Linked DNA regions of Homo sapiens: region 1 is linked to region 2. A link means that fine-mapping ties the variant in region 2 to the expression of a gene that starts in the linked region. Tissue or cell type: spleen. Region 2 holds a variant in brackets; the other region holds the start of a gene. All regions are shown on one strand. Distances are from middle to middle.

Region 1 (8,313 bases), 24 kb after region 2:
GCTCCTTTTGATCTCCCCTGTGTGGTCTCTTGTGCAACTCTGGAACCTGGCCTGCTGACTAACTTCTCATTACGGTCTCACCCTCTGAAGTGTGAGGACTGAGGAGTCACATGTGCACCAGAATAGATGTGAGACTAGCCCCTATTTCTCCTGGTGTAGAGTGCCTGGAGGTGGCTGCTGAACTCTCAGCGCAAGAACCTAGAAGCAACTGGCCTTCCCCTGAGATAGACCATTCCTACTGCCTGCAGAAGTTCCCTGACTCATCCATCTCTCCCCCAGGTTCCTCTATGATAATGGCCTTTCGATGTGACTATTCGCTTTGGATAGTGACATTTCCATACCTAGGCTGGGCATCTTCAACACACTCTCAACGTATTACCAAACAGGCTGCAGAGTAAAATCTGATTTGCCAGATAATATATGGGTTTTAGGGATGTAATCCTAAGGTCAGAAATAGCCTATTTGAAATCTTTCTAATATTTGATACTTGTAGTATGATTTTAATGAGATGCATTATTTGAAACAGGGCACTGAAAACAGAGATGAACAGGCTTTTGTAGATGATCAAATGCCAATCTTTCCTTCATAAACTTTGTAGATGAGGAAAGGCTATAGACGTCACTTTGTAAATGATCCACAAGAAGGTGAATTTCTAAAAAACACAAAACAATATCTTGAAGACTGCTTAGGAGGTGACAAGGATACTTTGGGGGACATGCTGGTTTTGATGAGAAATAAACAGTAGTTAAATATCCTTCCACTCTCTCTTGTCTGTGTACCTGCCCCACAAGAAAATCCTGGCTTGCAGTGAGCCACAGGCCCATGTATAGCTGTTCAGGTATGTTCCGTCATATGGAGGGTAGCAGAGGCTCACAGGGTAGATTATTTACCGTACACGAAAAATATGACAGAATTCTCAGCCTAAAGAAATTATACAGGTTATTAAAAAGGACAGTGCCAAGTGCTGTTGAGGGAATAACGTAGACCCTCCCTGCCAAGACTTACAGAATTGTTTTAAAACTGGATGTAATCCTGAATTTGAAACCACCAGTCACCTCGTAGGTGCAAGAAAAAGTTGGAAGATTTCAAGGCTACGAGGACATTCCCAGAAACAATTCCAAGCAATGAAGGCACTTACTGTCATCAATTATAATAGTTGCTTTTCATTGAGCACCGTAATAACATATGGGAGAGATTGCAAGTGCCCATCTCCATCTTGTCTAGCTCGCCTTCCTGGCGGGTTCATTTGTAGTTAGACAGAAGCCAGTGTATCATTCCCATGCTTTCATTTCCGTTCAGCACTTAACATCTGTTGTGACGTGGAGCTATAAGGTGACAGCAGCTTGGATTCCTGGCTGAGGTGAAAGCCAGGACCCGCCGTGGATTAGTTTCTTATACCATAACAGAATACCACAGACGGGGTGACTTAAACAATACAAATGAATTTTCTCCCATTTCTGGAGGCTAAATATCTAAGATCAAGATGTGGGCCAGTTTGATTTCTTCCCTGGCCTCTCCGTGGCTTGCTGATGGCCACTTTCTCACTAAATTCTTACATGGTTTTTCCTTGGTCTGTGTGTCTGTATCTTAATCTGCTCTTTTATGAGGACACCTGTCATACTGAATATGAGCCTAACCTTAAGACCTCATTTTACCTTAATTACCTCTTTAAAGTTTCTATCTTCAAATACAGTCACATTCTGGGATACTGGGTTTTAAGACGGATATATGAATTTTGGGGGAGATTCAAAATTCAGCCCATAATACCCTGCCAACTAAATTCAGAATTTATGTACAAAAAAGTAAACGTGTTGAGTCATGTAAAAATGAAGGATTTTTTTGTTGTTGTTCCAAGAGCTTACTGTTATTTTATCTGCCTCCTGGACTGCTCCTCATCCTTTTCTTAGGCTTATTTCAATACTTTCCTTACAAATAAATACTGCATATATTGTTGTTGCAAAAACTTAAAAAAAGAGGTAGAAATCACAATTCTCCCTTTTGGAAAGTTCCTCCAAAATTCAGCCCCCTATTCAGAAGTTTCCACAATTAACCGTGTGGTGTTTAAATTTAAAAGCTGATTTAGAATTTTGAGAAGATTGATGTGGTTTTTAAAGTAAAATTTATACATATATGAGCTTATGTATGTGTTTATAACTACACATGGGTAATAATATACATATAGGTCTGCCACTTCCCTTTCCACTATTATAGATTCAATTGCACCCCCACTGAAGTCTTATGTTGAAATTAACATGTGGCATTATTTGGAGACGGGATTATCTCAGAGGCAAGGAAGTTAAAATGTGGTTATTAAAGAAGAGCTGGTACTATTCCTATGCAAACATCCTTTGTTTATTAATAAACATACTTTATTCACATTTATTTCCTTGTCACGAAAGTCTATTTTCTGTCCCAAGATACCCTGAGGATACGCCATTACACTTGTTCATCATGTCTCTTTAAATGCCCTTTGGCTGTGCCAGTTCACTGAGACTTCTCTTGATTTTGAAAACATTGACAGTTTGGAGGTGTATGGTCAGGTATTTTGTAAAATAGCCTTTGATTGGGAATTAAGTGATTATTTTTTATGATTTGATGTAGGTTACGTTTTCTCGGAAGATGAACAGAGAAGTGAAGTGCCATTCTTATCATATCATACCGACGGCACATAATACCAACACAATTTGTCACTGATGATGTTACTTTGATCACCATGGTGACCTAGTGTTTGTCAGTTTTCTTCAGGGTAAAGTCACATTACTTTTTTCCCTGTGTCATACTGTCATCTTGGGAAGGATAGGAAGACCCAGGACCAGCCAGTAGTCAGATGAGGCCTCTGAGGGAAAACTGCAGAAACCTCCTGCCCACAAAGAAGAGGATCCACAGAAACCAGCTCCCCACCTGTTGTCATCCCTGGGAGGCCCAGGGGCATGTTGACCCACAGTGCTGTCCCCTGACGTCTTAGCGTGTAGAAAGAGGAGAAGGCTGTGCTTAGGTGAGTCTCACTTCAGATCATGAGAGCGGAAGATCAGGAGGGGGGCCTTCTAGGCATCCCCAGGCTGATACAGAGGATGGACTGGTGAGCTACCCCACCACGGACACAGGAGGATCCCCAAAAACCTGCCCGTTTTCACTGCTAGGAGGCCTTGGGCAGGGCCATTAGGGAGAGACGCTAGCGTGCTCCAGTCCCTCTTGGGGGGTTCATGGAAATGGGAACCTTGATCTGAAAAACAGTCCCTGGAGAGAAGAGGGAGGGAGTGGAGGCCGTATCAGGAATAATAGGTTGAGGAAGACTGAGGGTCCCTCCCATGCCATTTCAGACGGAGGGCAGTGGAGCCCTACCTGGAGTCTGGGAGGCCATACCCCACTGTGGATGGATGTGATTCTACCTCTCTTGCACCTTGCAGGTCTCAAGGATGGGAGGGGCTTATTCGGAGGTGAAAGACTCAGATGCATAGAGGCAGGGAGCCCAGACAATGTCAGGAGTCCAGGAACAGCCTCTCAGGAAGGCAGGAAGGGAACACCCATGACTGGTAGTGCTGCCTGTCCTGTCCCTGTGCCTGCTGCCAGCCATGGAGGAGCCCATCAGGGTCCCCAGATTTACAAATTTCTGACTTCCATTTTGGGAGTCAGCCAGAGGGGAGATTTTCTCTGAGGAGGGCAGCTTCAGTTAAACAGAGGGAGTAGCCCCAGGGCTGGCCACTCAACAAGAAGAGAACTCTGTCGAAGGACAGTGACCTCCGAACACGGGGGAGGCACAGGCTGCACCCTGCCACTCCCTGCTGTCAGCCCTGGAAAAAGGTGGGGTGTGAGTGTCAAGGACTGGGGAGGTGGGAGGGAAGAGGTCAGCAGGGCTTAGGGAGTGAGCAGAAAGGTTTGGAGCACATCCTGGAGGTGGGAAGGAAGGGATGGAAAGGAGGCTGACAAGCGGGCGGCGGGGGGGGGGCGCCTTCCTCCTCTGAGAGGAGGCCCCGCCCCACGCTATCCGGGCTGTCAGCCCTGATCAACCCTGACAGAGTTCCCGGATGTGCTTTGCCGGATGTGCTTTCCCGGCGGCCATCTTGGGAGTCTGAAGGACCTGAGGCATTTTGTGACGAGGATCGTCTCAGGTCAGCGGAGGGAGGAGACTTATAGACCTATCCAGTCTTCAAGGTGAGGGCCCCGAGGGAGAAGTGAGGGACAACCCCACCACAGAGAGAAGCAGCCCTGGCCTGCCCTATCCCTGCGGTGGCACTTGTAGGTGGCGGAAACGAAGATGGTAGCCGAGGGCTGAGGGACGTGTCCTCACGGCAGAAGAAGGGAGGAAATGCCGGCCCTCTAGAGAATAAATAGGAAGGCATTGAGGAGGACCGGGGGAACCCCCACCTCAGAGGACAGATTCCCAGAGATTCCCACCCTGCTCCTCAAATCAGCCCCCATAGAGCTCCCCAGGTGGCTGAGGCTGAGCGGCCACCCTCTCACTGCTGGGTGAGGGGTGTAGGGGAGGGGGAGGAGGAGGCCTTGTTCTGGGGGTCCCATGGCAAGTCAGCATGGGGAGCTGCCTCCAGTTGGCAGAGGGAAGATTCCCAGGCCCTGCTGGGAACAAGAGTGAGGACTGAGGGGTCACATGTGCGTCAGAACAGACGTGAGGCCACAGGGACCGCCCCCGTGGTAGAGTGCTGGGAGGTGGCTGCCACCTCACTACCTCCCACTGCTCTCAGTGATGTGGAGTTTTCCTGAGGTTTTTCCTCAGGCCAGCAGAGTGGTGGGGGCCTGGCCCTGTCTGAGAAAATGTGACAATGCTAATTGAATTCTGAGGGGGTCACGAACCTCAGAATTGTGGGACTCTGGGAGTCTGGCCAGCCCCAGCTGCCGTCTTAGCTGGAGGGGCTCCCTCCCTTCCTCTTGCAGGTGCTCCAGAAAGCAGGAGTTGAAGACCTGGGTGTGAGGGACACATACATCCTAAAAGCACCACAGCAGAGGAGGCCCAGGCAGTGCCAGGAGTCAAGGTGAGTGCACGACCTGACTGTGTACCAAGGGCCCTACCCCCAGAAACAGGGCAGACCTGGCAGCACCCGGCCTGTAGCCACCCACTGTCATTCCTGGTGCCTCAGGCTCTGCCTGCCAGCTGTGCCCCGAGGTGCTTTCTCGCGTCCTTCTACAGGTTCCCAGAAGACAAACCCCCTAGGAAGACAGGCGACCTGTGAGGCCCTAGAGCACCACCTTAAGAGAAGAAGAGCTGTAAGCCGGCCTTTGTCAGAGCCATCATGGGTGAGTTTCTCAGCTGAGGCCACTGGCACTGTCCCTCTCTCCCTCAGTCCTGTGGGATCCCATCATACCTATTCGTGTTCACACGTTTACCTGCTGCTCCTGAACAATATTCATCATGCCTCTCTTTCTAAACCTTCCACGCCCCAGCTTTGAGCAAGGCTTCCAGAAGGCAATTTTCATACTGGAGTTGGTAGATGCAGAGGATCCCCCAGATGAGGAAGAGGAGGAAGCTTCCTCCATTTTCTCTTCCTCTTTCCACTTTTTATTCCCCTCGTCCTCCTCCTGTTTTTCTTTCTCATCCTCATCCTCCTCTCTGCTTCTGCGTTCTCCAGGGGACAAGGATATGCCTACTGCTGGGATGCCGAGTCTTCTCCAGAGTTCCTCTGAGAGTCCTCAGAGTTGTCCTGAGGGGGAGGACTCCCAGTCTCCTCTCCAGATTCCCCAGAGTTCTCCTGAGAGCGACGACACCCTGTATCCTCTCCAGAGTCCTCAGAGTCGTTCTGAGGGGGAGGACTCCTCGGATCCTCTCCAGAGACCTCCTGAGGGGAAGGACTCCCAGTCTCCTCTCCAGATTCCCCAGAGTTCTCCTGAGGGCGACGACACCCAGTCTCCTCTCCAGAATTCTCAGAGTTCTCCTGAGGGGAAGGACTCCCTGTCTCCTCTAGAGATTTCTCAGAGCCCTCCTGAGGGTGAGGATGTCCAGTCTCCTCTGCAGAATCCTGCGAGTTCCTTCTTCTCCTCTGCTTTATTGAGTATTTTCCAGAGTTCCCCTGAGAGTACTCAAAGTCCTTTTGAGGGTTTTCCCCAGTCTGTTCTCCAGATTCCTGTGAGCGCCGCCTCCTCCTCCACTTTAGTGAGTATTTTCCAGAGTTCCCCTGAGAGTACTCAAAGTCCTTTTGAGGGTTTTCCCCAGTCTCCACTCCAGATTCCTGTGAGCCGCTCCTTCTCCTCCACTTTATTGAGTATTTTCCAGAGTTCCCCTGAGAGAACTCAGAGTACTTTTGAGGGTTTTGCCCAGTCTCCTCTCCAGATTCCTGTGAGCCCCTCCTCCTCCTCCACTTTACTGAGTCTTTTCCAGAGTTTCTCTGAGAGAACTCAGAGTACTTTTGAGGGTTTTGCCCAGTCTTCTCTCCAGATTCCTGTGAGCCCCTCCTTCTCCTCCACTTTAGTGAGTCTTTTCCAGAGTTCCCCTGAGAGAACTCAGAGTACTTTTGAGGGTTTTCCCCAGTCTCCTCTCCAGATTCCTGTGAGCTCCTCCTCCTCCTCCACTTTATTGAGTCTTTTCCAGAGTTCCCCTGAGAGAACTCACAGTACTTTTGAGGGTTTTCCCCAGTCTCTTCTCCAGATTCCTATGACCTCCTCCTTCTCCTCTACTTTATTGAGTATTTTCCAGAGTTCTCCTGAGAGTGCTCAAAGTACTTTTGAGGGTTTTCCCCAGTCTCCTCTCCAGATTCCTGGGAGCCCCTCCTTCTCCTCCACTTTACTGAGTCTTTTCCAGAGTTCCCCTGAGAGAACTCACAGTACTTTTGAGGGTTTTCCCCAGTCTCCTCTCCAGATTCCTATGACCTCCTCCTTCTCCTCTACTTTATTGAGTATTTTACAGAGTTCTCCTGAGAGTGCTCAAAGTGCTTTTGAGGGTTTTCCCCAGTCTCCTCTCCAGATTCCTGTGAGCTCCTCTTTCTCCTACACTTTATTGAGTCTTTTCCAGAGTTCCCCTGAGAGAACTCACAGTACTTTTGAGGGTTTTCCCCAGTCTCCTCTCCAGATTCCTGTGAGCTCCTCCTCCTCCTCCTCCACTTTATTGAGTCTTTTCCAGAGTTCCCCTGAGTGTACTCAAAGTACTTTTGAGGGTTTTCCCCAGTCTCCTCTCCAGATTCCTCAGAGTCCTCCTGAAGGGGAGAATACCCATTCTCCTCTCCAGATTGTTCCAAGTCTTCCTGAGTGGGAGGACTCCCTGTCTCCTCACTACTTTCCTCAGAGCCCTCCTCAGGGGGAGGACTCCCTATCTCCTCACTACTTTCCTCAGAGCCCTCCTCAGGGGGAGGACTCCCTGTCTCCTCACTACTTTCCTCAGAGCCCTCAGGGGGAGGACTCCCTGTCTCCTCACTACTTTCCTCAGAGCCCTCCTCAGGGGGAGGACTCCATGTCTCCTCTCTACTTTCCTCAGAGTCCTCTTCAGGGGGAGGAATTCCAGTCTTCTCTCCAGAGCCCTGTGAGCATCTGCTCCTCCTCCACTCCATCCAGTCTTCCCCAGAGTTTCCCTGAGAGTTCTCAGAGTCCTCCTGAGGGGCCTGTCCAGTCTCCTCTCCATAGTCCTCAGAGCCCTCCTGAGGGGATGCACTCCCAATCTCCTCTCCAGAGTCCTGAGAGTGCTCCTGAGGGGGAGGATTCCCTGTCTCCTCTCCAAATTCCTCAGAGTCCTCTTGAGGGAGAGGACTCCCTGTCTTCTCTCCATTTTCCTCAGAGTCCTCCTGAGTGGGAGGACTCCCTCTCTCCTCTCCACTTTCCTCAGTTTCCTCCTCAGGGGGAGGACTTCCAGTCTTCTCTCCAGAGTCCTGTGAGTATCTGCTCCTCCTCCACTTCTTTGAGTCTTCCCCAGAGTTTCCCTGAGAGTCCTCAGAGTCCTCCTGAGGGGCCTGCTCAGTCTCCTCTCCAGAGACCTGTCAGCTCCTTCTTCTCCTACACTTTAGCGAGTCTTCTCCAAAGTTCCCATGAGAGTCCTCAGAGTCCTCCTGAGGGGCCTGCCCAGTCTCCTCTCCAGAGTCCTGTGAGCTCCTTCCCCTCCTCCACTTCATCGAGTCTTTCCCAGAGTTCTCCTGTGAGCTCCTTCCCCTCCTCCACTTCATCGAGTCTTTCCAAGAGTTCCCCTGAGAGTCCTCTCCAGAGTCCTGTGATCTCCTTCTCCTCCTCCACTTCATTGAGCCCATTCAGTGAAGAGTCCAGCAGCCCAGTAGATGAATATACAAGTTCCTCAGACACCTTGCTAGAGAGTGATTCCTTGACAGACAGCGAGTCCTTGATAGAGAGCGAGCCCTTGTTCACTTATACACTGGATGAAAAGGT
Region 2 (8,327 bases):
CAAAGCTGAAGAAGGAAGTCAGCTCATGAACGGCTGAGTTGATCCTGGCCATAGTCAATGAAGAGGGCCCCAACCCTCAGGGAAGTCTCTGGCAAAGCCACAAGTCAGCCTTTTTTGGAATCTCAGGGTTCCTGAATCCTGCTGAGGGTCCTGTCAGGAGTAAGAACAGCTGAAAGGAAGTATGTGAATCTCCTATCTATGTGGAGAGGAAAATAAACCTCTATTCCCATCACATTTGGGCAAACTGGCACTGCCTCTTAAGTCAGTAAAGTATTTGTGGACCTGGTCAGGTTTCTGTCATCAACACAACATCCCCCATTCATGACTTTCTGGAGTAGAACTGCTCACATTATATTTCTTGGACCCCCAGAGTTCCAGAGGTCAGCAGGAGGACTGGCCAAGTAAGAGGGAATTAATGCAAAGTTGTCCCAGGTAGCCTTCCCCCAGCCACTATTGAGATTTCAAGTCCTGCTCTCAGGAAGCAAAGGTTCATGAAAGCAGTCAGGCCTTTTATGGCTGAGACAAGGGGGCAGAAGTAGCTGCTATTTCCTGTGCTCCTCTTTGACTCTTATCTTACTTCTCCCTGGTACTGAAGTGACCAAAGACCCCAGCCTCTTTCAGTGCTTTCAAATCCAGCCTTACAGATGCTCTAATTTACTCATACTGCGAACTTGCTTAAAGATAATTTATACAAAGACTTATTATTCTAAGAATGTCTGTGTATTTCTGAGGTTTTTTATAATAAACATATTTTAAGGTAGGTTTTGAATTTCCCTGTAATTGTTTTTTCTGTTTAATATGAAAAAGGGTTCCACTTACATTAGGGTTTTTGTATGGATATTCTGTTGTTCCACTGACACTTATTTCAAGAAGACTGTCTCCTGTTCTAAAGCTGCAAGTTTTAAAAATCAGTTAAGCACATGTTTATACATGTTTTGTTGGTTTTGTTTTTCAGAACTCTCCATTCAGTTCCTTTGGTCTATCTGTCAATCTCTGCACCCAAATCTCAAACTCTTCATTATAGTAGCTTTGTAATTCTTACTGTCTGGTAGACTAATGACTCTTTTTCAAGTGTATATTGACTATGCTTGTCCATTTGCATGTCTTTATATTTTAGAATCAGGTGATTCACACATGCCTTCATGTCCAAAGCCCTTTGGCAGTTTTGATTTAGGATTGCAGTCGATCTGTAGATTCCTTTTTGGGAAGAATCAACATATTTAAAATATTGAATCTTCATGCCCATGAATTTATTTTATTTTATGTTCAGGTAGGTCTTTGTTAATATGCCTCAACAGCATTTTAATATTTTTGTCTGTAAAAATTTTTTGGTTAAGCTTTTTTAACCAAAAAATATTTTAACCAGCCATCAGCTGCCTCCCAGTCTTATTTGGTTAAAATGTTTTTGGTTAAATTATTTTCCTAAGATACTTGATATTTTGGTACTATAGGTTAAAATTATATAGTCTTTACTTTCATTTTCATACTCTTTCCCTGACAAAAAACGAAGTTGATATTCTTTTGAATATTGACCTTATACTAGCAAACTGATATACTATTATATATTGAATAAATTATCTTTAGTTGTTTTGGATTCTTTTCATGCACAGTCTAATCATGCATGAATCACAAACGCTTTGTTTCCAACTGGCCAATCCTCATTCCTTCATTTACTGCTCTTTGGATTACTACACTGGCTACTACCTCTAGTATAAAAAGTAATAGAAGTACTTGTAGCAGAAACTCTAGGTTAGGTCTCAAGTTCAAACTAGAGGCTTCCAACATTTCCTTAAAAGATGTATCTGTTGTAGGTTTTTCATGCATATCCTTTTATCTAGTTTGGTAACATTTTTCATATTTGATAAACTTTATGTTTAAATAATTTTAGATTTACAAGAAAATTATAACAATAGTAAGAAAGTTCTCATATGTTCCACACTCAATGCCTCCTGTTATTAACACCTTACCTTGGTAAGGTTTCCTAAAACTAATGAGCCAGTATTTGTACATTGTTTTTAACAAACATTCTTTATTTATTATTGAACATACTTCAGTCACATTTTCTTACTTTTCACGAAATTCTATTTTCTATGCCAGGATCCCCTAAGGATACTCCATTACATTTAGTTATCATGTTCCTTCGATGCCCTTTGGCTGTACCGGTTGATTGAGACATTTCTCGATTTTGAAAACATTGACAGTTTTGACAGTTTCGTATGGTTAGGTATTTTGTAAAATTGACTTTGACTGGGATTTATGTGATTTTTTTCTGTCATGATTTGATGTAGGTAATGTTTCCTGGAAGGATGAACAGAGAGGTGAAGTGCCGTTCTTATCATACCGACAGCACATAGTACCAACAAAATTTGTCACTGATGATGTTAACTTGATTACCATGGCATCATCGTGCTTTTTAGCTTTATTCAGGGTAAAATTACATTATTTTTTGCCGTATGTTATACTGTCATCATGAGAAGAACAGGGAGACCCAGGACCAGCCAGTAGTCACATGAAGCCTCTGAGAGATAACTGCAAGACTCCCTGCCCACAAAGAGAAGGATCCACAGAATCCAGCTCCACTGCTGCTGTCAGCCCTGGGAGGCCCTGGGGCATGGTGGCCCACTGTGGTGTCCCCCTGACATTTTAGAGGGTAGAAAGAGGAGAAGGCTCTGCCTAGGTGAGTCTCACTTCAGATCATGAGAGGTGAAGGGACTCAGGCCCTTCCAGGCATCCCCAGGATGACACAGAGGAAGGACTGGTGAGACACCCCTCCCAAGAAACAGAAGGACACACAAATCCAGGCCCTGTTTTCACCCCTGGGAGGCCTTGGGCAGGGCCCTCAGTCAGAGATGCTAGCGCTTTTCACTTCGTCTTGGGGGGCGTCTCATGGAAATGGGGACCTTGATCTGAAGAACATAGTCTCTGGACAGCAGGGGAAGGGCTCCCAGGCCATGTCAGGAATAATAACTGCAGGAAAACAGAGAGTCCTGCCCACCCCATTTTAGAAAAAGGACACCAGAGTCCTGCCTTGGGCCTGGGAGGCCCCACCCCACTGTGGGTGGATGTGATTCTCCCTCTCTTGCACCTTGCAGGTCTCAGGGATGGGAGGGGCTTATTCGGAGGTGAAAGACTCAGTTGCACAGAGGCAGGAAGGCCAGGCGGTTTCCAGGAGTCCAGGCACAGCCTCTCGGGAAGGCAGGAAGGGAACACCCATGACTGGTAGTGCCCCTCCCCTGTCCCTGTGCCTGCTGCCAGCTCTGGAGGACCCTATCAGGGTCCCCAGGTTTACAACTTTCTGACTTGCATTTTGGGAGTCAGCCGGAGGGGAAGTTTTCTCTGAGGAGGGCAGTTTCAGTTAAGCAGAGGGAGGAACCCCAGGACTGGCCACTCAACGAGAAGAGAACTCTGTGGAAGGACAGTGACCTTCCAACATGGAGGAGAGGCACAGGCTACACCCTTTCCCTTCCTGCCGTCAGCCCTGGAAAAAGG[T/A]TGTGGGGGGAGAAAGCGGGGAGGTGGGCAGGGAAATATGGACGAGGGCTTTGAAGTGAGGAGGAAAAGGTGGAGGGATACCGAGAGGTGGGCAGGAAGGGGTGGAAAGGGTCGGGGAGGTAGGCAGGAAGGGGTGGAGGGGGCCCAGGAGATGGGCAGGAAGGGGTGGAGAAGGGCCGGGAGGTGGTCAGGAAAGTGTGGGAAAGAGGTAGAGAGGTGAGGGGTGGTTCCTCCATAGAGAGGAGACCTAGCCCCACTGGGAGTCTGAAGTATTTGAGGCATTTTGTGAGAAGGCTTAATTGAGATCAGCAGACAGAAGACTCTTAGAACTGGCCGATCCTCAAGGTAAGGGCCCTAAGGGAGAACTGAGGGACCTCCCACCACAGAAAGAAGAAGCTCTTGCCTGCCCTCTACCTGCTGTGAGATTGTAGGTCGCAGACAGGAAGAGGGTAACCGAGGGCTGAGGGACACGTCTTCATGACAGAAGAAGGGAGGAGGTGCCAGCTCTCTAGGGAATAAATAGGAAGACTTTGAGAAGGACAAGGGGAAACGCCACCTCAGAGGACAGACTCCCAGAGATTCCCAGCATGCTCCTCCATATCAGCCCTCGTAGAGCTCCCCAGTCAGCTCAGGCTGAGCGGCAGCCCTCTCATTGCTGGGTGAGAGGTGCAGGGAAAGGGAAGGCCTTGGTCTGAGGGTCCCGTGGCAAATCAGCACAGGGAGCTGCCTCCAGTTGGCAGAGGGAAGATTCCCAGGCCCTGCTGGGGATAAGAGTGAGGACTGAGGAGTCACATGTGCATCAGAACAGATGTGAGGCCAGCCCAACTGCCCCCGTGGTAGAGTGCTGGGAGGTGGCTGCCACCTCACTACCTCCCACTGCTCTCAGGGATGTGGAGTTTGCCCTGAGTTTTGGCTAGAAGAGTGGTAGGGACATGGCCCTGTCTGAGAAAAGGTGAGGATGCTAATTAAATTCTGATGGGACCATGCAGTCCAGAACTGTGGGGCTCTGGGAGTCTGGTCAGCCCCAGCTGTCAGCCTTGGGAGGCCCAAGACTCTGCTTGCAGTCTTTAGCCTGAGGGGCTCCCTCACTTCCTCTTGCAGGTGCTCCAGGAACCAGGAGTTGAAGACCTGGGTCTGAGGCACACTTCCTAAAGTCAGCACAGCAGAGGAGGCCCAGGCAATATCAGGAGTCAAGGTGAGTGCACGCCCTGACTGTGTACCAAGGGCCCTACCCCCACAAACAGAGCAGACCTGGCAGCACCTGGCCATAGCCACCTACTGCCATTCCTGGTGCCTCAGGCTCTGCCTGCCAGCTGTGCCCCGAGGTGCTTTCTCACATCCTCCTACAGGTTCCCAGGGGACAAACCCCCTAGGATGGCAGGTGACCCGTGAGGCCCTAGAGCACCACCTTAAGAGAAGAAGAGCTGTAAGCCGGCCTTTGTCAGAACCACCATGGGTGAGTTTCTCAGCTGAGGCCACTTGCAGTGTCCCTCTCTCCCTCAGGCCTGTTGGATGCCATCATCCACATCCCTGCTCACACATTTACCTCCTGCTCCTAAGGAAGACGTTATGCCTGTGTTTTGAAATGTTCCTAGCGGCAACTTTGAGAAAGACTTCCAGAACCAAACTGTGATAGAGAACTTGGCAGATGCACAGGATTCCACAGAGGAGGAAGAGGAGAAAACCTCCTCCATTTCCTCTTCCTCTTTCTACTTATTATTCCCCTCCTCTTCCTTCTCTTCTTCCTCCTTCTCCTCCTCTTTCTCCTCTTCCTCCTCCTCCTCCTCCTCATCCTCTACTCTGATTCTTGGTGCTCATGAGGAGGAGGAGGAGTAGCTGTCTGCTGGGATGCTGCCTCTTCCCCAGAATCCTCCTGAGAGTCCTCCCCAGGGTCCTCTCCAGGGTTCCCTGTCCTGCTCCTCCTCCACTTTATGAAGCCCATTCAATGAAGAGCCTAGCAGCCAATAAGATGAAGATACAAGTACCTGGCACAGCTTGCCAGAGAGCGAGCCCTTGTTCACTTATACACTGGATGAAAAGGTGGACAAGTTGGTGCAGTTTCTTCTCCTCAAATATCAAGCAAAAGAGCCTCTCACAAGAGCAGAGATGCAGATGAATGTCATCAACACATACACGGGCTACTTTCCTATGATCTTCAGGAAAGCCCGTGAGTTCATAGAGATTCTTTTTGGCATTTCCCTGACAGAAGTGGACCCCGACCATTTCTATGTCTTTGTAAACACATTAGACCTCACCTGTGAGGGGAGTCTGAGTGATGAGCAGGGCATGCCCCAGAACCGCCTCCTGATTCTTATTCTGAGTGTGATCTTCATAAAGGGCAACTGTGCATCTGAGGAGGTCATCTGGGAAGTGCTGAATGCAATAGGGGTGTGTGCTCAGAGGGAGCATTTCGTCTATCGGGAGCCCAGGGAGCTTGTCACTAAAGTTTGAGTGCAGGGACATTACCTGGAGTAGCGACATGTGCCCAGTAGTGCTCCTCCACGTTATGAATTCCTGTGGGGTCCTAGAGCCCATTCAGAAACTAGCAAGAGGAAAGTAGTGAGATTTTGGTCATGTGAAACAATACCGTCTCTAGTTCCTTTCCAATCTCTTCCAAGGATGCTTTGAAAGATGTGGAAGACAGAGCCCAGGCCATAATTGACACCAAAAATGATGCTACTGCCATGGCCAGTGCAAGGTTCCGTGTCATCTCCAGAAACTTCTCCTGTCCTGAGTGAAGTATAGGGCCGTTTCTTACGTCTGTGTTTGAAGAGGGCAGTCAGGGTCCTAGGTAGTGGAGGGCCCGGGTGGGGCTTGAGGGAACAATACAGTGTTCTTTGCATTTCTGTTCCATATGGGAGAGATAGATTTACCTCGTTTCCTTTTGTGTACTTTTTGAATGATTTTCCTTTTAATAGTAGGTTGAATTAGCTTCAGAATATTATTTTATAAATATTAGTCACACATATATTGCTGTTTATCTAGTTTAAGAGTAACAGTTTGATATTTTGTAAAAAAAAATGGAAAAAGCTTGTCTCTTATTTTGTGATCTATAACAGGATAACATGGTATTGTACTAGGAATTTTCTTTAAATTATGTAAGAACTCAGCAGTTAAATAGTGGAACGAAATAAAGGATGGTGAATAGTTACATTTCCTTATCCCGTTTATACTGTTGTTCTTGAAAATTAAAGAAATAGACCTGGCTTTGCTTAGCTCATTCAAGAAAGTAGCAGAAATTAAATGTTAATAAATAAAAGCATCTCTGACGGCTTTATTTGCCTAACATTCTGTGAGCATTTGCTTGCGGAGGGGACTCTTAATAGTGGGGATACAGTGAAAAGCAAGAGTTATGCCTTACCTATAAAACAATAGAGTCTAGGAGCAGAAGCCATGTCAAGAAGGTGGTAAGATGCTCTCTACAATCATAAGTTTCAAAAAAGTGGGGAGGTGAGACTCCAGATGGAGTCTTCAAGTATAAAGTCCCTGAGCTAAGGTAGTGTGGGGCTTCGGGAAACTGCAGGTGCTTCTGTGGGAGCTGATTGTTATGAAGCTGGGTGGTGGCAGGGGCCAGACTCTCAGAAGGTGAGAGAAAAGCCTGCAATGGAAAACTGCTCTGAGCAGTTCCTTCTGGGTGGATGATGAGGGAGAGAGGAGTCTCCATGTGGGGAAGTAATGGAAGCTGTCTTGCAGCTCTCTAACTGGTGAGCTTGAACACAGTGCAAGGACTAGGTGATTGATACCCATCATTTGCAAGTGTTTCCTGAGAAATAAGGCGATAATTCCTTGAAATGCTGCCCAGAAGCTTCTAGGCTGGCACTCATTTTCCTAGCCTGGGAGAGCCAGAGTCCATTCCATTGAAAGGTCATTTAATTAGGTTATTTTAAATGTAATGTGGGCAACTGTAAGCAAGGGCTAGATTTTTAGTGGAGGATAAATAGAAATAGTTGTTTGGATGGATGAGCAAAGGGGAAGGTGAAAAGGAGTTGGTCCTTGATTCAAATTCAGCACTTTGATGTAAATTTTCAGTTTGGATAGTGACAATTCCATATCTATCCTGGGCATCTTCAAACACTCTCAAAATACTCCCACATAGGGTGGTGAGTAGAATCTGATTTGCCACATAATATACTGGTTCTAGGGATGTAATCTTAGGGTAAGAGATAGAGTTTTTGAGATCATCCTAATATTTGATATTTGTATTGGGATTTTAATATATGATATTTGTAGTAACATTGTTTGAAGCAGGCCACTGAAGAGATACACAGATGAATGAGCTATACCAGGTGGTCAAAAAGCAAAGCTTCCTTCATAAACTTGGTATATGAGATAAAATTTTGGAAATCACTTTGTAAATAAATTACAAGGAGCTGAATTTCTAAAAACAGAACAATAACAAAATCCTTAATACTGCTTAGAAGGTGACAAGTGTTCCTTGACAGACAGGCTAGCTCTGATGAGAAAAGAAAATTATGGTTAACCATCCTTCCATTGTCTCTTTTCTGTGTACCTGCCCCACAGGAAAATCTTGGTTTGCAGTGTGCCACAGGCACATGTACAGCTGTTCAGGAATGTTCAGTCATGTAGAGGGTATTAGAATCTCTCATGGTAGGATATTTACCGTATACCAAAAGCAGTGAGAGAATTCTCAGTCTAAAGAGATTGTATTGTGTGATGGTTAATACTGAGTGTCAACTTGATTGGATTGAAGGATGCAAGTATTGTTCCTGGGTTTGTCTGTGAGGGTGTTGCCAAAGGAGGTTAACATTTGAGTCAGTGGGCTGGGAAAGGCAGGTCCACCCTTAATCTGCATGGGCACAATCTAATCAGCTGCCAGT

Alleles and levels. Positions count from the first base shown, and alleles are read on the strand shown. Sizes are in standard deviations (SD) of each study's normalised expression.
For the expression in spleen of the gene that starts at base 4,068 in region 1, T is the low allele of the variant in region 2 and A is the other (large effect, 0.91 SD a copy in GTEx).

What was found. PIP is the estimated chance that this variant, and not a neighbour inherited with it, causes the effect.
Region 1: it holds the start of MAGEC1, and the variant in region 2 is fine-mapped to the expression of MAGEC1 in spleen (GTEx, PIP above 0.99).

What each region holds. Positions count from the first base shown.
Region 1 is chrX:141,899,827-141,908,139 of GRCh38, forward strand. MAGEC1 (MAGE family member C1) reads left to right here and starts at 4,068. Exons shown (of 4, transcript NM_005462.5): 1 at 4,068-4,152; 2 at 4,891-4,988; 3 at 5,144-5,250; 4 at 5,583-8,313. The coding sequence starts at 5,247. RefSeq lists an enhancer at 4,184-5,383.
Region 2 is chrX:141,875,920-141,884,246 of GRCh38, forward strand. It overlaps MAGEC3 (MAGE family member C3), which reads left to right. Exons shown (of 8, transcript NM_138702.1): 3 at 3,256-3,512; 4 at 5,484-5,877. Among named protein-coding and RNA genes, the nearest start is that of MAGEC1, 24 kb to the right of the region's middle. The variant T/A (reference allele first, on the strand shown) is at 3,490.